Linked DNA regions of Homo sapiens. The gene in region 1 interacts genetically with each later gene. Each region holds a gene or a part of one and is shown in the gene's direction. Other genes may lie near its edges.

Region 1 (7,025 bases):
CCTTACCTGTAGTTCTGCCATTCTCAGAAAGTTGGCTGAATGGAATCAACAGCATGTTGCCCTTTGGTCCTGGTGGCTTTCAGGCGGCCAAATCCGTGTTGCTGCAGGTTTCAAAAGTTACCCCATTTTTTTGCTGACTGTAAATCCATTGGACAGTTGGGCCACAGATTGTTGACGTGTTTGCCTGTGGGTCACAGGACTGTGGGCTGTTTCCAATTTTTGGTGATTAGAATAAACCCGCACTAAACACCACTGGCGGGATTTTTGGTGAAAGTCAGTGTTCGCGTGGCGAGGTTCTCAGGGGTGGACCGCACGGCCTGTGCTAAGCGTCTGTTTAACATCTGCATCCCAACAGTTGCCACTTGTCAGTGCTAAGAAACCCACTGGAACCCAGCGTCGGGGCCTGGGGTAGTGGTCTTGCCAGGGACCCTTTGCCTTTTCCTTGGTACTGAAGTGAACATTCACGTGAAGGCAGCCCTGGTGTCCCCGCCCGCATGCCTGCTGCCCTGCCTGGCCAGTGCTCCATTGTAAATAGTAAGGGCGAGAGCTGGCGGGAGCGGGCTTTCTAGTGGTGGGCGGGACTGTGCCGTGTCTTTCCCTCCCTGGCCAGGCCCTGGCTTGGCAGGGTGTGCTGGTCCTGGCGCCGTCTACGGCCTCTTCCTGCTCTGGTTGGCCCACTGCCGGGCCCAGCATCTTCATTCGCCCAAGTGCCAGAGGCAGCCTTCTGACAACCTCGCCGTGACATTTGTCATTTTCTGTGTTCCCGTTGAGGAATTTTGCTTTCTCACAAGAAGTGAGGGGTGGTTCTGATTTTCTTTTCTTTTCTTTTTTTTTTTTTTTTTTTGAGACAGAGTCTTGCTCTATCGCCCAGGCTGGAGTGCAGTGGCACAATCTCCACTCACTGCAAGCTCCGCCTCCCAGGTTTCAGTGATTCTCCTGCCTCAGCCTCCCCAGTAGCTGGGATTACAGACCTGTGCCACCATGCCTGGCTTATTTTGTATTTTTAGTAGAGACAGGGTTTCACCATATTGGCCAGGCTGGTCTCAAACTCCTGACCTCAGGTGATCCGTCCACCTCGGCCTCCCAGAGTGCTGGGATGACAGGCGTGAACCACCGTGCCCAGACGCAGCTGCAGCAGCACATTTATTCATGATTCATTCCAACAGCAGCTACTGAATACTCAGTGTTGTGGGGGCACAGAGGACAACAAGCCAATATTCTCCCCCCGCCACCGCCCCAGCATTCTTAGTCTCAAGAAACCTGTCAAATGAAGACAGGCCGGGCACAGGGGCTCATGCCTGTAGTCCCTGCACTTTGGGAAGCCCAGGCGGGAGGATTGCTTGAGCCCAGGAGTTTGAGACAAGCCAGGGCAACATAGGGAGACTCCATCTCTACCAAAAAATTTAAAACAGTGAAGTTAAGTAGATTATAAATAGAAGTTCAGCAGAGATACTGTGCTGAGTACAAGGTCAGCTGAGGTCCCCAGGGAGGGGCTGCCACTTCTGCCCTGGGGGACCTGTGGGTGGCTGCTTGGAGGAGGGGCCATCCGGAGGAGGAAGCAGAAATAGCCACAACTGTCCACGCTCGGAAATGAGCAGTTCGGAAGGGGTTTGCCCAATTGGCAAACGCAAGGGGGAGGAAGGGAGATTTTTATTCTTACATGACCTGGGAGTTCCTGGATAACCGCTTTTCTCAAGCCCCGCATGGCATTTCTTATTTTTTTGAGAGGGAATCTCGTACTGTTGCCTGGGCTGGAGTACAACGGTGTGATCTCGGTTCACTGCAACATCTGCCTCCTGGGTTCAAGTGATTCTCCTGTCTCAGCCTCCCCAGTAGGTGGGACTACAGGCACCCGCCACCACGCCCAGCTAATTTTTTGTATTTTTAGTAGCGACAGGTTTTCACTATGTTGGCCAGGCTGGTCTCGAACTCCTGACCTTGTCATCTACCTGCCTGGGCCTCCCAGAGTGCTAGGATTACAGGCATGAGCCACCGTGCCTGGCCCTGCGTGGTATTTCTAGGGCAGGATGGCCCTGCCCTTCTTCTAGTGGGAAGGGCACAAGTGGCATTATTGGTTGTTTGCTCGGAAAGAACCTTCAAAGGCCACAGAACGGGACCTTCCCCCTGGTGACTCACAGGCTGTGGGCGGGCAGGGGCGGCCTCCACTGGCCAAGGGTCCGGACTCTCTGACTCTCATTAATGAGTGAGTACATGTTCCGCCTGACAGCCTGGCCTGGAGCCCGGCTGTGGGCGGCGGTGAGTGGGCAGCCAGCAGTGAGTAGCAGCCGGGGCGGGGTGAGCTGTCCCCACCGTGACTCAGAAGGTATTTTCTGCTGCTGACCTCTGAGCTTGAGTGTCCTGAGTAATCCCAGCTCCCCCGGAGGCAGATTAACCTTTAGGCAGCTTTGTGTGAGTAAAGGAGTCGCTTTAAATAGGAAGGAATAATAGAAAAAACCCAAGTGTTCCGTTTTATAGCAAATGCACACTGCTTTGTTCCTGCTGGCCTGAAAGAGGTTGCAGGGGGTACTGGGGCGGGGAATTGTCCAGAAACTCTGCAGATGATACAGGGACACTCCAGCCTAGCCTCTGAGGAGAGTTTTTTTTGAGACGGACTCGCTCTGTCTCCCAGGCTGGAGTGCAGTGGCCCAATCTCGGCTCACTGCAGCCTCCGCCTCCTGGGTTCAAGTGATTCTCCTGCCTCAGCCTCCCGAGTAGCTGGGATTACAGGTGTGAGCCACCACGCCCAGCTCTTTTTTTCCTTTAAAAATCTGCTTGTTATCTGCTGCTCATCAGAGTGTATATTTGGGGTAATTCGAGCCTGTGCTCCCAGGTTGCAGTCCTCAAATGTGGCCCAAATAAATGCTCCACTTATATTAATTTTGCTCCAGTTCCTTTCCTTTAGCTCGACAGTGTGAATCTACAATTATCTTAAAATAAAAAGTTTAATTAAAAAAAACACACGGTTGCCCAGGCACGGTGGCTCATGCCTGTAATCCCGGCACTTTGGGAGGCCAAGGCGGGCAGATCACCTGCGGTCAGGAGTTCGAGACCAGCTTGGCCAACATGACGAAACCCCGTATTTACCAAAAATACAAAAATTAGCTGGGCGTGGTGGCGGTTGCCTATAATCCGGAGAATTGCTTGAACCCGAGAGGGGGAGGCTGCAGTGAGCTGAGATCATGCCATTACACTCCAGACTGGTCGACAGAGTGAGACTCTGTCTCAAACAAACAGACAAAATTAGATAAAGGAAAAAAGAATTTTTGTTCAAGTAATATTGGCCATTGATGGCTGCAAATCACTCTTGGTGTTACAGATTCCAGGAACAGGAAGATAGTGTCCGAGACCAGGATGCAGGAACAGATAGATGCCTTTCCACGCTTGCCCCTGGTGTGGTTGGGAGGCGTGACTGAAATCCTTGCTCTTGTCTCTCTGGACCTGATGCATTTTGCATGCCTCACTGGGCACGGACTGCTTGGAGCTGTTTTTATCTTCCAGCAGTGTGAGGTGTAGGAAGGACCCAACACGGTTCCTCCTGTGCTCTCCGCAGTCAACACAGAGGAGTTGCGGAACCAGATACGGGTACCCGGGGATTCATCAGTTCTGTGTTTCCTACTGGGCAGCCCCGATTCAACTCACTTCCAGCATGTCTACCTCGACACAGGCTCAGATCCCACGGGGTAAGGGCTCAGTCCCCAAGACTCCCCCACTTTCCATGCCAGTTAGAGGCCTCACGTTGTGACCTGTGCTTCTGAGTGACCGGTCGGCTGTAAATCCAGGTTCCCGTCACCCTTACCTCGGCTTGATTACATTGCCTCAGTGGCTCACAGAACTCCCGAGAAACACTTAGGTCCTTTGGTTAATGATAAAGGACGATCTGTGGGATGCCCATGAATACTGAGAAATGGATCCTCAGGGCAAGGCATGGGGGAAGGGCCCACTCCCTCCAGGAGTCTCCCGGAACGTGTGTCTCCCGGGACCTGTCCCCCTCCAGGAGTCTCCTGGAACCTGTCCCCCTCCAAGAGTCTCCCAGAACCTGTCCTTTAGAGTGTTGTTTCTCTCATTATTTTTGGGATAGGGTCTTGCTTTGTCACCCAGGCTGGAGTGCAGTGGCTCGATATCTGCTGACTGCATTCTCCGCCTCCCAGGCTGAAAGGATTCTCTTCCTTCAGCCTCCTGAGTAGCTGGGATTACAGGCATGAGCCACCACGCCTGGCTAAATTTTGTATTTTTTGGTGGGGCCTTGCTGTGTTGCCCCAGGCTAGTGGTAACTTTGATAAGCTTTGGGCCTCAGCCTCAGGCTGTGTGGTGGGGTCTAAGGTACAGCAGGGGCCCCAGAGGAGTCCTCCAGGGGAAGGACTGCGAGAATGCTGTGGCACTGGCAGAGCCTTTTACCTGGAGGATCCCTGCATTGAGCCCTTCTGGTCCCGAATTGTACTGAGCCCTCTTCTTCCTGCCTGTAGGCTGAAAGAATGAATTCCTGGCCCTGGAAGGTTCAAACAGCAGTTCTCAGGGGTGGAGGTGGCTCTGCCCCCAGGGGACACCTGGTGGCGTCTAGAGACCTTTGCGGTTGTCACCACCGGGGTGGGGGAAGCCCAAGGATGCTGCTCATCACTCACAGAGCTTGGGGCAGCCCCACCACCGAGGGCGGGCCAGGAGACGCCAAGAGCTGTGCCTTTCATCGCCTGGGGTCCCGGGCACCGACCGCCGCCGGGTGTCGCTCCGTGTTCGTGTACATGCCTTCTCCTGGGGGTAGCCCTGCTTTTATTTCCTGAGTGCTTCCTGGGACCATGCATGTCCGGCAGGCCCTGGCCAAGATCCAGGCTTGCTGCGTGCAGTCCCCGCCCACTGTGTCCCCCTGAGGGAAGGACCTGAGGTGAAGTTAGCGTAATGGGAGTGTATTTGGGCCTCGTTTGCGGGCTGCAGCTCTGGAGACACAGATTCAAGTGCCCAGAATGTATGCGCGGCAGTTACAAGTGGGGCTTCCTGGAGAAAAGAAGGGGCGGCTTTTGCATTGGAATCACAGAAGTGATTGCCCGGCTCCACGTCCTTCCTGGTATCTCAGACTCCAGGGACGTGAAGATAACAGATGGTCACATTGTGCAAATAGTGATAACCTTGTAGGTAATTCATCAGCTAGTGTGGAAACCCCAGGGGAGGAAAGAAGGCCCTGGGAGGGAGTGACTGAAACTCACTTGGAGGCTCTCTGGGCCTGTGGAGTTCTGCACAGCATGCAGCTCCCACTCCTCGGACGCACTTTTCTTTTTTGTTTTCTTTTCTTTCCTTTTTTTTTTTTTTGAGACGGAGTCTCGCTCTGTGGCCCAGGCTGGAGTGCAGTGGCGCGATCTCTGCTCACTGCAAGCTCCGCCTTCAGGGTTCAAGTGATTCCCCTGCCTCAGCCTCCCGAGTAGCTGGGACTACAGGCGCCCGCCGCCACGCCCAGCTAATTTTTTGTATTTTTAGCAGAGATGGGGTTTCACCATGTTAGCCAGGATGGTCTCGATCTCCTGACCTCATGATCCACCCGCCTTGGGCTCCCAAAGTGCTGGGATCACAGGTGTGAGCCACCGTGCCCGGCCAGCCACTTTTCTTTCTTTCTTTTTTTTTTTTTGAAGACAGAGTCTCACTCTTTTTACTCAGGCTGGAGTGCAGTGGCGCCATCTCGGCTTACTGAAACCTCCGCCTCCTGGGTTCAAGCCATTCTCCTGCCTCAGCCTCCCGAGTAGCTGGGATTACAGATGTGTGCCACCAGGCCCAGCTAGTTTTTGTATTTTTAGTGGAGACGGGGTTTCACCATGTTAATCAGGCTGGTCTCAAACTCCTGACCTCGTGGTCTGCCTGCCCTGCCTCCCAAAGTGCTGGGATTACAGGCGTGAGCCACTGCGCCTGGCAATATTTTTCCTCTTTTTTTTGAAATAACATCCTTGTTGTGACAGTTCACGTATCATAAAGTTCACCTGTTTTAGGCTGGACGTGAGAATGGCATGAACCCAGGAGGCGGAGCTTGCAGTGAGCTGAGATCGTGCCACTGCACTCCAGCCTGGGCAACTGCGCGAGACTCCATCTCAAAAAAAAAAAAAAAGTTCACCCGTTTTAAGTGTACATTTCAGTGTGTTTTAGTATATTCACAGATTGTGCAGTCGTCACCATTGTCTAATTCCAGAACGTTCTAATCACCCCAAAAGGAAACGCTGCCGCCTCAGCAGTCAGTGCTGGTCTCCCCTAGCGTCCTGGAGCGTTTTTCCCTGCATGGAGGCCCACGAGTCCCGCGCTTTCCTCCTTCCCTGTCACGCTGTGGCTTTAGGAGGCCCACGAGTCCCGCGCTTTCCTCCTTCCCTGTCACGCTGTGGCTTTGGCCTCAGGCTAGAGGGTCGGTGTCTGTCAGCCTGTGCTCAGACGAGGGCGAGGAGAGTTCTGGTCAGCGCGTCCAGCCTCCCTCCTGTGTTGCTTTGCTGCTGGAAAAAGAGGGTCCTGATGCAGACCCCAAGAGAGGAGAGAACTCGAGGTGAGCCGCGGATCACAGTGAGAGCAGCCACCAAGCCGCTTCCTTACACAGCGGGCCTCCCTGACAGAGCAGGGCGTCCTCGGGGAGCAGGCAGAGGGTGCCTGCTCTTCCTTAGCGCCTCCGTCTGTGAGAAACGGCCAGGGTTGCGAGTAAACCTGGAACGTGCAGACACTCACTGGAGGCCAGCCGGGTGGTGCCATCCGACCACCCTTCAAGCCCAGCCTGCTCACCGGCCCTCTCAGTACAGCGGGCACGGGTTCTGCGGGCTGCCCGGAAGACCTCCCCCAGACCCATAGATGCTCTGTGTCCTTGGTGGGCAGCTCATAAGTGTGAACCTTCCCGGTACCTTGCGAGTGCCTCACTACGCACTTCAAGACGGGGTCGCTCCGGTTGTGTTTTATGAAACCAGAGGCCTGGTGAGCTGAGCTTCCTCTCACAGCTTCACAGCAGCCTGTGTGGGTGGCCTCAGCCCTCCTGAGCCCCTCCAGTGTCGAGTTGCTTTGACTGTTTCCAGGGAACT
Region 2 (7,025 bases), on another chromosome or scaffold:
GGCCTGATGAGGTGGCTCACACCTGTAATCTCAGTACTTCGGGAGGCCGAGGCAGGCGGATCACGAGGTCAGGAGTTCGAGACCAGCCTCACCAACATTGAGAAACCCTGTCTCTACTAAAAATACAAAATTAGCCAGGCGTGATGGTGCCTGCCTGTAATCCCAGCTACTCAGGAGGCTGAGGCAGGAGAATCGCTTGAACCCAGGAGATGGAGGTTGCAGTGAGCCGAGATTGCACCATCGCACTTCAGCCTGGGCAACAAGAGTGAACCTCCATCCTAATTTTAAAAAAAAGGGGTAGCGCCGCTCAGCAATGCATTGGCCACCATTATAGATCTCTCCCAACGCAGTCTATTATGTACAAAATGGAGATACTGATAAGACTTCTTGGAGTAATACTATATAAAGCTTGCCAAAGTGCCAGGGCTGCTTAAGAAATTGCTTCTTATTACTTAGATCTGGGGTTCTGGGAATTATCAAAGTACTTTGAAAACAATTTTTTTAAAGGATATTTTAATATTTGAAAAATTTTAGACAAAAGTGTCCTTTTATTTGTTCCCAACAGTCTCTCCTCTTCCTTCCTCCATGGATCTGCTTATTCAGGACAGCCCTGATTCTTCCACCAGTCCCAAAGGCAAACAACCCACTTCTGCAGAGAAGAGTGTCGCAAAAAAGGAAGACAAGGTCCCGGTCAAGAAACAGAAGACCAGAACTGTGTTCTCTTCCACCCAGCTGTGTGTACTCAATGATAGATTTCAGAGACAGAAATACCTCAGCCTCCAGCAGATGCAAGAACTCTCCAACATCCTGAACCTCAGCTACAAACAGGTAGGCTTGTTTTGTCCTTGGAATAAGGTGAACAAAAATTGGACTAATTTGCATGGCTAAGACCTCTGTGGATGCATGTAGATGTGTGTACTATGTGTCCGTACATCGCCTCTTGCAAATAATTTATGAAGATGAAATGCTTTTGTAACTTCCTTCACCTCTTTCTTTCCTTAAATATTCTATTATGTGAATAATTATGTCATAATTTAACCACTTTCTTGCACAGACCAATATTGTGAAAATCTTTCCAACGTTTCCTTAATAAAAAAGAAGTATCTAACTCCACTTACCAGGGTAGGAGAAACCCTAACTCACACTGGTTCTCATTAAAATAAAAACTTTTTTTTTCCTTTTTTTCTTTCTGCCAGCAACTCCAGCTTGTTTTGTTTTTTATCTGTGTGCATTCAATAAGGCCAATCATTGTTTATTACTTGTTGGCCATTTTCCTTCATTAATTGGCTTATCCTCTTCTAGGCTTTATTTCCTTCTTTTCTTTTGTTTATTTTTGAGACGGAGTCTCACTCTGTCTCCCAGGCTGGAGTGCAGTGGCCTCATAATGAGACATCATAATGACATTAGCATTACTTGGTTTAAGTACAAATGGATGAAACCTCCACCTCCTGGGTTCAAGGGATTCTCCTGCCTCAGCCTCCCAAGTAGCTGGGATTACAGGCGCCCGCCACTACACCTGGCTAATTTTACTGTATTTTTTAGTAGAGATGGGGCTTCACCATGTTGGCCAGGCTGGTTTTCAACTCCTGACCTCAAGTGATCCACGTGCCTCTGCCTCCTAAAGTGCTAGGATTACAGGTGTGAACTACCACACCCGGCCCTTGCCTTTATTTTCTATCCAAAATGTTCATTTCTCTCTTTTTTTCTGAGACAGTCTGGTTCTGTTGTCACGCAGCTGGAGTGCAGTGATGCAATCTTGGCTCACTGCAGCCTTCACTTCCCAGGTGCAAGCGATCCTCCCGTCTCAGCCTCCTGAGAAGCTGGGACCACAGACGTGCAGCATTACACCCGGCTAATTTTTTGTATTTTTGTAGACACGGTGTTTCCTCATGTTGGCTAGCCTGTAGCGAACTCCTGGGCTCAAGCAATCTGCCCGCCTTGGCCTTCCAAAGTGTTGGGATTACAGGCATGAGATATGGCACCTGGCCAGGAATAAAAGTTAGCAATATACTTTGATTCAAAGTACCTCTGTATTATGAATATTTTACAATTTCTATCATTTTTTCCTGCAGGTGAAGACCTGGTTCCAGAACCAGAGAATGAAATCTAAGAGGTGGCAGAAAAACAACTGGCCGAAGAATAGCAATGGTGTGACGCAGGTAACAGGAAACTTCATTCTGTTCTTTCCTTTCAGTGATCTTTCAATCTTGTCCATCCCTGAAACACACAACTCCAGTCACAGACAGTTCTGGTTGTCCTTGTACCCTTTCTGTTAATCCCTCCTTCTCTTTCAGAAGGCCTCAGCACCTACCTACCCCAGCCTTTACTCTTCCTACCACCAGGGATGCCTGGTGAACCCGACTGGGAACCTTCCAATGTGGAGCAACCAGACCTGGAACAATTCAACCTGGAGCAACCAGACCCAGAACATCCAGTCCTGGAGCAACCACTCCTGGAACACTCAGACCTGGTGCACCCAATCCTGGAACAATCAGGCCTGGAACAGTCCCTTCTATAACTGTGGAGAGGAATCTCTGCAGTCCTGCATGCAGTTCCAGCCAAATTCTCCTGCCAGTGACTTGGAGGCTGCCTTGGAAGCTGCTGGGGAAGGCCTTAATGTAATACAGCAGACCACTAGGTATTTTAGTACTCCACAAACCATGGATTTATTCCTAAACTACTCCATGAACATGCAACCTGAAGACGTGTGAAGATGAGTGAAACTGATATTACTCAATTTCAGTCTGGACACTGGCTGAATCCTTCCTCTCCCCTCCTCCCATCCCTCATAGGATTTTTCTTGTTTGGAAACCACGTGTTCTGGTTTCCATGATGCCCATCCAGTCAATCTCATGGAGGGTGGAGTATGGTTGGAGCCTAATCAGCGAGGTTTCTTTTTTTTTTTTTTTCCTATTGGATCTTCCTGGAGAAAATACTTTTTTTTTTTTTTTTTTTGAAACGGAGTCTTGCTCTGTCGCCCAGGCTGGAGTGCAGTGGCGCGGTCTTGGCTCACTGCAAGCTCCGTCTCCCGGGTTCACGCCATTCTCCTGCCTCAGCCTCCCGAGCAGCTGGGACTACAGGCGCCCGCCACCTCGCCCGGCTAATATTTTGTATTTTTAGTAGAGACGGGGTTTCACTGTGTTAGCCAGGATGGTCTCGATCTCCTGACCTTGTGATCCACCCGCCTCGGCCTCCCTAACAGCTGGGATTTACAGGCGTGAGCCACCGCGCCCTGCCTAGAAAAGACATTTTAATAACCTTGGCTGCCGTCTCTGGCTATAGATAAGTAGATCTAATACTAGTTTGGATATCTTTAGGGTTTAGAATCTAACCTCAAGAATAAGAAATACAAGTACAAATTGGTGATGAAGATGTATTCGTATTGTTTGGGATTGGGAGGCTTTGCTTATTTTTTAAAAACTATTGAGGTAAAGGGTTAAGCTGTAACATACTTAATTGATTTCTTACCGTTTTTGGCTCTGTTTTGCTATATCCCCTAATTTGTTGGTTGTGCTAATCTTTGTAGAAAGAGGTCTCGTATTTGCTGCATCGTAATGACATGAGTACTGCTTTAGTTGGTTTAAGTTCAAATGAATGAAACAACTATTTTTCCTTTAGTTGATTTTACCCTGATTTCACCGAGTGTTTCAATGAGTAAATATACAGCTTAAACATAAATCTTTGTTAAATTTTTGGTTGGGGTGGAGAAGGAAATTAGCTGAGGACACTGCTATCTTAGAAATGCATAGAAATAGCTGAGCGTGGTGGCCTATGCCTGTAGTCCCAGCTATTTGGGAGGCTGAGGCAGGAGAATCGCTTGAACCTGGTAGGTGGAGGTTGTAGTGAGCCAATATCACACCACTGCACTCCAGCTTGGGCGACAAGAGCAAAACTCCCATCTCAAAAATAAATAAATAAATAAGTAAATAAATGAATAATAAATAAATATGCCAGTTTTAGAATGAATGAATAATAAATATGCCAGTTTTAGAAAAAAGGGCACTTACGTGCATTGTACATGTGCATCTACAAATGTAATGGGTTATTTCCGTGTATGAATCTGTAATTGATGCTAACATTTAAAGTTTCATCAGAGGCCTATATGTAAGTAAATTCTAAGGCTAGTTGAAACAGATTTATGTTCTCACCTTAAGAGCAGCTACGCAGGCATCTGTGAATTATACTAATAATCCTTTACTGTCCTTTTCCCATCTTGTGCCTGCCCTAAATGTATCTGATCTGAGAGCACGTCCCTTCACTCTGAAGCAGCATGATGCAGGTTATCAGAGTGGTTTTTTCCAGTCTTTTCTCTCATTATTTCCCCAATTGTCCAATGTTACTAAGACTATCCAGTCTAATTCCAAGTGTTTTTTTTTTGTTTTATTTTGTTTTTTTTTAAGACTGGAGTCTTACTCTGTTGCCCAGGCTGGAGTGTAGTGGAGCGATCTCGGCTCACCGCAACCTCCGCCTCCCGAGTTCAAGTGATTCTCCTGCCTCAGCCTCCCAAGTAGCTGGGACTACAGGGGTGAGCCACCATGCCCAGCTAATTGTATTTTTAGTAGAGACAGGGTTTCACTATGTTGGCCAGGCTGGTCTTGAACTCCTGACCTCATGATCCACCAGCCTTGGCCTCCCAAAGTGTTGGGATTACAGGCGTGAGCCACTGCGCCTGGCCTATCGTTTGTTTTTTTAGACAGTCTCTCTCTATTGCCCAGGCTGGAGTGCAGTGGCACAATCTTGGCTCACTGCAACCTCCGCCTCCTGGGTTCGAGCAATTCTCCTGCGTCAGCCTCCTAAGTAGCTGGGATTACAGGCACCCAACATTACACCCGGCTAATTTTTGGTATTTTTAGTAGAGATGGGGTTTCACCATGTTGGCCAGCCTGGTCTCGAACTCCTGACCTCAGGTGATCCACCTGACTCGGCCTCCCAAAGTGGTGGGATTATAGGTGTGAGCCACCGTGTCTGGGCAATTTTTTTTTTTTTTTTTGAGATGGAACTTCACTTTTGTTACTCAGGCTGGAGCACAATGATGCAATCTCTACTCACTGCAACCTGCACCTCCCAGGTTCAAGTGATTCTCTTGCCTCAGCCTTTCGAGTGGCTGGTATTACAGGGATTTGCCACTATGCCCAGCTAATTCTTTGTATTTAGTAGAGATGGGGTTTCACCGTATTGACCAGGCTGGTCTCGAACTCCTGACCTCAGGTAATCCACCCTCCTCGGTCTCCCAAAGTGCTAGGATTACAGGCATGAGCCACAGTGCCCAGCCTTCTTTTTTATTTTTTTAAGACGGGCTTATTCTGCTGCTCAGACTGGGGCTTAGTGGCACCATTTCACCTCACTGTAGCCTCGACTTCCCGGATTCAAGCAATCCTCCTGCCTGAGTCTCTCAAATAGCCCAGACTATAGGTGCACACCACCATGCCAGCTAACTTTTGTGTTTTTAGGAGAGACGGGGTTTCCCCATGTTGGCCTGGCTAGTCTCAAACTCCTGAGCTCAAGCAGTCTACCAGCCTTGGCCTCCCGAAGTGCTGAGATTACAGGCATGAGTCACCAGCCTAGCCCTGTATTATGTTTTCTGAACTTTTTTTTTTTTAATCACCCAGTATTAATCTTCAACCTCTTGGCAGGTAAGAATTTAGAGATCTATTTGGAATAATCTTTAAAGTAACAATAATAACTACAGTCAAAAGCAGTAAGATTAGTGGGCCAGGTGCCGTGGCTCACACCTGTAATCCCAGCACTTCGGGAGACCAAGGCAGGTGGATCACCTGAGGTCAGGAGTTCAAGTTTAGCATGGCCAATATGGCGAAACCCTGTCTCTACTAAAAATACAGAAATTTGCCAGAGGTCTTGGTTTGCGCCTGTAATCTCAGCTACTTGGAAGGCGGAGGCAGGATAATCACTTGAACCCGGGAGGTTGCAGTGACCCCAGATAATGCCACCCCACTCCAGCCTGGGCGACAGAGCGTCACTGTCTCAAAAATAAACAAAAATAATAGGAGATTAGGCAAAAAGGATAGTACAAGGCTCTCTGTTTAACATTTCTTCCTTTCTCTAGAAAATTTTCCTTTCTTTTCCCAAAAGGAGGTGTGTGTTACTTCCAATGCTATATTTTAGTAGCTTTACCATATTTTAGTTTTTAAAATTCATTATTTTGATTTCTCAGCTTTCATTTTCATTTCAGTTTGTACCTGAAGGAGAGAAGCATGGATTGAATTTGCCTGGGTTTTCCGAATTTCATAATATAAATTTAAAACTCAGAAGTGGGAGGAATACAGGCCTTGATTAGTGAATTTCAAGCTCAGTTCTCGGGGTGAAGGACAAGGTTAATTCTACTCTGAGTAATTCTACCGTTCAGAAAACCTGGTGTGTCTACAGGAAAAAATACAGGCTGTGACTACAAACCTAAAAGTAAAGGCAAACAACTGCCAGACAGAGGCAGGAAAGTGGGGGAGAGCCCTTGGTAAATATTGCATGCCTCCTGGGGCCCCCATGGGCTTTGACTCAAGGGGGAGATGAAGGGAATTTGTTAAAGAAAGAAGTCACTGGGACAGACAAAAGCTTCCGGCACAGGAAGTTAGTTCGACTAAGGATACCGAAATGTAGGAATTTGAATGGGTTCCTGGGTGTGAGGTTGAAGTGAAACTTGATTGAAAAGAAGCTGCTGGTGGTGAGTCTCTCCTTAAGCTATTCCTGGCTTCTGGGTAGTTGGTGTAAACTCTGTGGTCCTTGAATAAAGTGTGCTTGAGAATTTTAGAAGGTTAAGCATCTGAGAAATTACTTCAATGCAGTGGTAGCACTACCTCTGATGATACTACCAAGCAAACTATTAAGAAACAGAAAAGCTCACAGATCAAATTAAGATGCTAGAATCGTATTAAATCAATTAAATACATGGAACAAAACAGGCAAAAAGATGGGATACATTAATCCATTTAGGATAAGGTGCATGTGGAGTAGAAAGGGTAGCAGTGTTTACATGTCCTCTGATAACACTGGCGTAGTCACAAGAGCTAAGG
Region 3 (6,974 bases), on another chromosome or scaffold:
TGTACTACTTTTTACATGTCAGCTGGGCACGGTGGCTCACACCTGTAATCCCAGCACTTTGGGAGGCCGAGGTGGGTGGATCACGAGGTCAGAAGTTCGAGACCAGCCTGGCCAATATGGTGAAACCTTGTCTCTACTAAAAATACAAAAATTAGCCGGGCATGGTGGCAGGCACCTGTAATCCCAGATACTTGGGAGGCTGAGGCAGGAGAATGGCTTGAACCTGGGAGGCAGAGGTTGCAGTGAGCTGAGATCATGCCATTGCACACTAGCCCGGGTGACAGAGTAAGACTCCGTCTCAAAAAAAAAAAAAAAAAAAAGAAGAAGAAGAAGAAGAAGAACTAACTACATGACAGGAACTGTTTCAAAAGCTTTGCCTACATGATCTAACTTCATCCTCACAATATCTCTGAGGCCTCAGTATTCTCATTATTCCTATAGGACAGAGGAAGAAACAGAGGAATATAGAGGTTAAGGAAGAGCTGTAAATAGTAGAGCTGACATTCGAACATGGGTAATCTGACTCTAATGCCTTGTACTCCTTTAAAAAGTGGTAATAATTAAGAAAATAAGGCCGGGAGTGGTGACTCACGCCTGTAATCCCAACACTTTGGGAGGCCGAGGTGGGCGGATCACCTGAGGTCAGGAGTTCGATATCAGCCTGGCTAACATGGTAAAACCCTGTCTCTACTAAAAATACAAAAATTAGCCAGGCATGGTGGTGGGCACCTGTAATCCCAGCTACTCAGGAGGCTGAGACAGGAGAATCACTTGAACCCAGGAGGCAGAGGTTGCAGCGAGCCAAGATCGCACCACTGCACTCCAGCCTGGGCAGTAGAGTGAGAATCTATCTCAAAAAAAAAAAAAAAAAAAAAAAAAGAAAAGAAAAGAAAAAGAAAAGAAAATTAAAAACAGAGATTAGTTTTTCTTCTACTTTGGTCTTCTTTGACTCAAAAAATATTATCTCTTCTTTCCTAACCCTTTACAGCCATATTATGGGAAGTAGGTTTCCCATTTTTCTGAAGAGGAGTTTGAGATACCTGCATCTCTCTCACAAAATCATATACTACTGGGAATCTCTCTCTCTCTCTCTTTGAGACAAGGCCTGGGTGAGTCTGTCACCCACGCTGGAGTGCAATGGCACTATCTCCTCACTGCAACCTCGGCCTCCTGGGCTCAAGTGATCCTCCCACCTCAGCCTCTCAAGTAGCTGGCATGCGCCACCACATCCGGTTAATTTTTGTATTTTTTTTAGAGATGGGGTTTCGTCATGTTGCCCAGGCTGGTCTCAAACTCCTGTCCTCAAGCAATCCTCCCACCTTGACCCCCCAAAATGCTGGGATTACAGGCGTGAGCCACCACGCCCGGTCGAAAGTGCCATTTCTTTAGCATTCAAAAAAAGTATCTTAGGCCGGGTGCGGTGACTCACACCTATAATCCCAGCACTTTGGGAGGCCCAGGCGGGCGGATCACTTGAGGTCAGGAGTTCAAGACCAGCCTGGCCAACATGGTAAACCCCGTCTCTATAAAAATACAAAAATTGGACGGGCGTGGTAGCATGTGCCTGTAATCCCAGCTACTCGGGAGGCTGAGGCACGAGAATTGCTTGAACCCAGGAGGCAGACGTTGCAGTGAGCAGATATCGTGCCACTGCACTCCAGCCTGGGTAACACAGCAAGACTCCGTCCCCCAAAAAAAGTGTCTTCATTCATCTGAAATGTGTCAGTGTTACCACAGCGGGAACCGGCATTGAGGAAAATCAGGTTTTCTGGGAAAGACTTGGAGGTGGGAACTCAAGAAGTTATTCTCAAAACTGTGAGCTGGGAATCAAGACAGCGTGACTCAATTCAGCACCGTGGACAGAGCTGCTGGAGCCCTCAGGACCCTGGACAGAGAAGCAGGCCGCGCATTCCCGGGGAACCGAATTCGCATCACTTGAGAACCCACCTAGAGAAGCCAGAGCGTTCAACTCCCCTTTCCCTCCCTTTTCTTCAGCCAGACCTCAGCCACTTGCTCCTGAGTCTTAGGAACAGAGGTACACGGAGCGAATATATTTTAAGGGCGCCACTAACAGCGGGAGATAAGACTTTTGGGAGAGGAGAATTATGTAAATAAAAATGGCTTTGGCTGATGTACTAGGAGAACTCTTGATAATTCTAAATTAGAGTCCTCAGATGGGAGTGGGGCACTGCTAATAATATTTGTTAACGATATGTATTTTTTAGGCGGAGCAGCAAAGGGCCACTCTTGTCCTTTTTACCCCACGAAGTCCCACCTCCCATTCCTTACGCTCAAGTTTTCATTTCTTGGAGAGCACCCCGTACGAGAGAAAGGGAAATAACTTCTGCAGTCTCTTGCTTTCCTCCCCATCTTCCCCTTCCCTACCCCCACTCATCCGGTCTCTCTGAAATACACATGTGCCCACATCCGCACGTGCACACACACACACACACAAACACACACACAGAGCCACAGCGTGAGAATTCCAAAAGGTTCTGCACACTCGGTGGAGAAGATTGAATTCAGAGCAAGCGGATGCCCCCGAAAGCAGGCTCTGTCCCTTTAAATGGGTTGTAGTGGTGGGGGAGGGGAACTGGCCGGAGCTGGCATTGTCCAGTTTGAACTGAACACCGGAAGTGAAGGGGCAGGGCCAGGGCCGTGCACTGAGCCCCGGGCCATTGTCCATCTCCGACCAGGGCAGTAGCCACCCCCACTAGCCAGCCGTCTTTATCTCCTAGAAGGGGAGGTTACCTCTTCAAATGAGGAGGCCCCCCAGTCCTGTTCCTCCACCAGCCCCACTACGGAATGGGAGCGCATTTTAGGGTGGTTACTCTGAAACAAGGAGGGCCTAGGAATCTAAGAGTGTGAAGAGTAGAGAGGAAGTACCTCTACCCACCAGCCCACCCAGTCCCTCTCTCAGCAGTGGATGGGGATGGGGTGGGGGTAGGACGAGAAGGCAGCTGGTGGAGAAACAGCTTCAAGACTCTTTGGGTTCCTCCTGCTCTCCAGGGAGCTTACCTGGGGCTAACTTTAGACACACAGGTTTGGAGGGAGGAAAGAAGGAAGAATTCTTTACAACGAATCAATTAAGAGCACTTTCTCTTTTCTAACTGGGGGAGGCCCAGAAAAACTCTGAGTCAGAAACTCTGGGAGGCAGACATTCAGATGTAGTCAGAGGCAGACAGACTTTGGAAGGCAGCGCTTTGGTCAGGACAGATCAGCCCTGTGTGTCCCCAGCCTCTCCCCTGCTCCCCCATCCCGGGCTTCCCAGTGTCCAGAACTCCAGGTCTATCTAAGCACACGGGGGTGGGGGGTGAGAGCGGGTCAGCTCCAAGCAGCCGGGTCAGCTCAGAGGCCTGAGGGGGAAGAGAGGGGGAGGGGAGCTCAAGGGCTGGGGGAGGGGGAGGGCCCATTCATTTCTCCCTTGACAGGTGGTTTGTGTTTCTGATTGGCCAGCGCCGCCAGGCTCACACCTCCCTCCCCCAACTCTCTGGAATGTATAATTATCTGCCCGGGGGGTGGGGGTGGTGTGTGTGTGTGTGTGTGTGTGTGTGTGTGTGTGTGTGCAGTCACGTGGTTTTAAAACTACCCCCCCCACCAGGTCCCCCACCTGTATCTGCTTTGGGGACCCCTACTGAGTCCAAAGTGCAGGATCTCAAATTCCGGGGTACTCAAGTCTTCTAGGGCAGACAGACCCATCTCCAGTTGTGCGTGTGGGGAGGGGGTGTCAAACCTCAAGGTTCTGAGAAGGGACACCCCAGAGGTGTCAGAGACCGGAGTTGTGGGGGAGGGCCGGAGCTGGAGCCGGAGGGAAAGGGAGGGGAAAGGAGAGGGAGGGGAGGGGAGGGGGCTGCCCGCGGGGGGTTGGGTCATTGTCTTTTAGAATTTGGGAGCCTTTGAAAAGCCGTGGGCCCTCCCACCGCTATTGTGCGGGGGAAGATGTAGCAGCTTCTTCTCCGAACCAACCCTTTGCCTTCGGACTTCTCCGGGGCCAGCAGCCGCCCGACCAGGGGCCCGGGGCCACGGGCTCAGCCGACGACCATGGGCTCCGTGTCCAACCAGCAGTTTGCAGGTTCGAGCTCGGGACTTAGCGGGGACACTTTAGGATTCAGGGGCGGCCAGGAGCCACGTAGAAGGGAGGTGGGGAACTGAGTCCTAGGCTGCCCAAAGGACCCCAAGACGGTGCGGCCTTCTGCTTCATAGGGCCGTCTCTGGGGCCAGGAACCTTGGTGTCCCAGTGGCGTGCGCGCCAGACTACGTGGGTGGATGGAGAGGAGAGGCTTGTCCCGCCGTGAGTCTCTGGGAAACGCGTTGTGGGAAGAGGAGCAAAACTTTCGGGGCACTACTGTCCCGGTGTACGCTAGGGGAACGCGGGAGGCGACCGGGATAGGTTTCTTCTCTTCTGTTGCTTGGTAGCTGCCCCCTCCTGGCTGTCCACTTGTGGGGCTGGATACTCGGGTCTCCCTGCCTGGGGCCCGAGACGGCCCTCCGATTCCGTGCCCCCCAGCTAAGTGCCCGGCCCTCCCTCTCTCCAGGTGGCTGCGCCAAGGCGGCAGAAGAGGCGCCCGAGGAGGCGCCGGAGGACGCGGCCCGGGCGGCGGACGAGCCTCAGCTGCTGCACGGTGCGGGCATCTGTAAGTGGTTCAACGTGCGCATGGGGTTCGGCTTCCTGTCCATGACCGCCCGCGCCGGGGTCGCGCTCGACCCCCCAGTGGATGTCTTTGTGCACCAGGTGAGACTGATTCCGGTAACTTTGCCCAGGGAAGGGCGTCTAGGCGCCCATATCCACGGGTGGGCTCCGGGCTCGCAGTTGAATTGAGGGCCATCGGGAGCCCTCATTATGCATCCCTGTCTTTGCTTCGGCACCCCAATTCTGAGTCCCTGTTAACTATCTCGTGGGGGAGTAGTGGGAGGCAGCACCAATTATCAGCACCCCCGCCCCCTTCCGGGAACCCCTCCGGCTTACCACGTGTCTATTACCTCTTTCCCCTGGGAAGGGGCAGGGGGCAGGGAGGTGACCCCATGTGGCAGAAACTAAGGTTGTATTGTGCTTGCCGGTGGGGGGAGGGCGAGCAGGCCGGCCAGGGAAGCACATGCCGGGCCTAAGCCGGGAGCCCAGCTCCTCCAACGTCTGAATGGAGCTCAGAAGGCGGGAGAGAGTGAGGGCAACTGGCTACTGGACCCAAGGGGCGTAAAGCCGAGAAGTCAGCCTCATCCCCTTTTTAATGCAGACCTCACCTGGCTGGTCACTAAAAACTGGGTTTGGCAGATCCCTGAAGGATCCCTGTGGGGGCTTGAAAGCTCAGGACTGGGGTCTTTGCTGTCCAGTTCCCGTGAGGAAGGAAAACCCAAAGAGCCCAGGCCTTCCTTACATTCCTGGGCCAGGCTGGGAGGGAAGTCGGTAGGTCGCAACCCCAAGTTCTCAGTTAAAGCAGGGCAGCACAGTAGGGGGTGAAATTCAGTGTCGCAGGGCAGGGGGTGAAGGGAGGCTGGCCTCTGGTCCTATTCTCCGCTTGGCATTTATGGCCCCAGACAGCCATTGATTGCTGTCTTAACATTCCTGGCCTCAAACAAGGAGCCAGAGACTTCAGGTCTCCCTCCTCCCAGGCTTCCCCTTCCTGAATATCCTAGAGGCATTCCGGTGGTCCTGGGCCACCAGCTACCCATAAAGACCATGGAAAGGAAGTTGCTTGCTGCCTATGGCCCTTCCATCTTTGGAGGTTTGGGACTGGATCTGGAAAGAAGAAATTGCTAATCCCAGATCGTGTAGGTTGACACCCAGGCCGGGCAGGGAGGGGTTACTTAAGGGAGGTTGGCTTTAGGAGGTGTGGGGGAGGGGAAAGGAGGATGTGGGGATTAAGGGTTGGAGCCTGAAGGGATGGCATTCTTTGGGGGAGGGGTAGAGAAGGGAGATGCTGGATGGACTAGTTGGAGGCAGCAGGGACGTCTTTGAGCACAGCCTTCAGTGAGGAACAAACAAGGGAAATAGACGCAGGGAGATGGGGAGCCACCACTTACTGTTGGGGCCATGGGGTCAGTGGGCTACTTGAACATCTGCCAAGAGGACCTGCAGCAGGATACTGAGCTGCCCCTTTGCAGCACCCTTATTCCCCCAACCCCCCATTAGACAGCTAGTTTCCCACTAGTGGCTTTTCTCCCTTCTCTGTCTCATTTACATATGTGAATGATAACCCACAGGAAGTAATTGTGGGAGAAAGAAGGGAATTGGCCTTTTTAGATCTATTAAATCACTTTATTACAGGAACCAGCTTTGAATGGCCCTCCTCAGCAGGGTAGCAAGCCTCCCCCACTCTCCCATTTATCTGATCACAAAGAGATTAAAATCTTTCCTGGTCTGGGGACTGGACAGCTCCCCCAACTTTGGGAGGCTGGAATAAAAGAGTCAGACCCAACGTTTTCTCATCTCCCATCCAAAGGCTGCCAGATAGGGAGGGGCTGAGGGGAATGTATCCCCTCATCTTCTGGGTTCCTTGGTGATATACATACCCCAAGGAAGGTGTTTTCTTGTTTTGTTTGTTTGTTTGTTTGAGCAAATGGGGACTTGGGCCTCAGCAGGCTTCACCTTAGGATCTAGAGCAATTGGGAAACTATTGGATGGCATAGAGCAGGCATTGAGTCTACACCATGCTGGGTCAGATGTGCTGGCTTGGAAATACTCTGGATTTTAGGCTCTTGGAACATCCAGGAACCCATAGTTGAGTAAGTTGTCAATAGGGAGCTGAGCTGGAAGAGAATTAAGAATTTGTCTCTCTAATCCCCAGCTCTTCCCATTCTACTCACAAAGCACAATGATGGGTGGAAATTCCCTGAGCCTTTACCTGGTAGCTCTGATAATGGTAGCATGCCAGAAAGGCTTGGGTCAGGGGTCCTCCAACCCCACCTTAACCGTAAGTTAGATTAGTGATTCCAGTCTTTGCACTTGTTTTTTTGTTTGTTTGTTTGTTTGTTTGTTG

Evidence for each region. A genetic interaction does not mean that the proteins touch.
Region 2: of DOT1L (region 1) and NANOG, changing one suppresses a phenotype caused by changing the other (phenotypic suppression), as found in Homo sapiens cells (one study listed by BioGRID).
Region 3: of DOT1L (region 1) and LIN28A, changing one suppresses a phenotype caused by changing the other (phenotypic suppression), as found in Homo sapiens cells (one study listed by BioGRID).

What each region holds. Positions count from the first base shown.
Region 1 is NC_000019.10:2,166,910-2,173,934, forward strand, and holds part of DOT1L (histone-lysine N-methyltransferase, H3 lysine-79 specific), read left to right. Parts: intron 1-7,025. UniProt on the Homo sapiens protein: Histone methyltransferase. Methylates 'Lys-79' of histone H3. Nucleosomes are preferred as substrate compared to free histones. Binds to DNA.
Region 2 is NC_000012.12:7,792,385-7,799,409, forward strand, and holds the end of NANOG (homeobox protein NANOG), read left to right. Parts: intron 1-565; coding exon 566-828; intron 829-2,072; coding exon 2,073-2,159; intron 2,160-2,294; coding exon 2,295-2,711; 3' UTR 2,712-6,762; downstream 6,763-7,025. UniProt on the Homo sapiens protein: Transcription regulator involved in inner cell mass and embryonic stem (ES) cells proliferation and self-renewal. Imposes pluripotency on ES cells and prevents their differentiation towards extraembryonic endoderm and trophectoderm lineages.
Region 3 is NC_000001.11:26,406,851-26,413,824, forward strand, and holds the start of LIN28A (protein lin-28 homolog A), read left to right. Parts: upstream 1-3,966; 5' UTR 3,967-4,041; coding exon 4,042-4,072; intron 4,073-4,535; coding exon 4,536-4,732; intron 4,733-6,974. UniProt on the Homo sapiens protein: RNA-binding protein that inhibits processing of pre-let-7 miRNAs and regulates translation of mRNAs that control developmental timing, pluripotency and metabolism.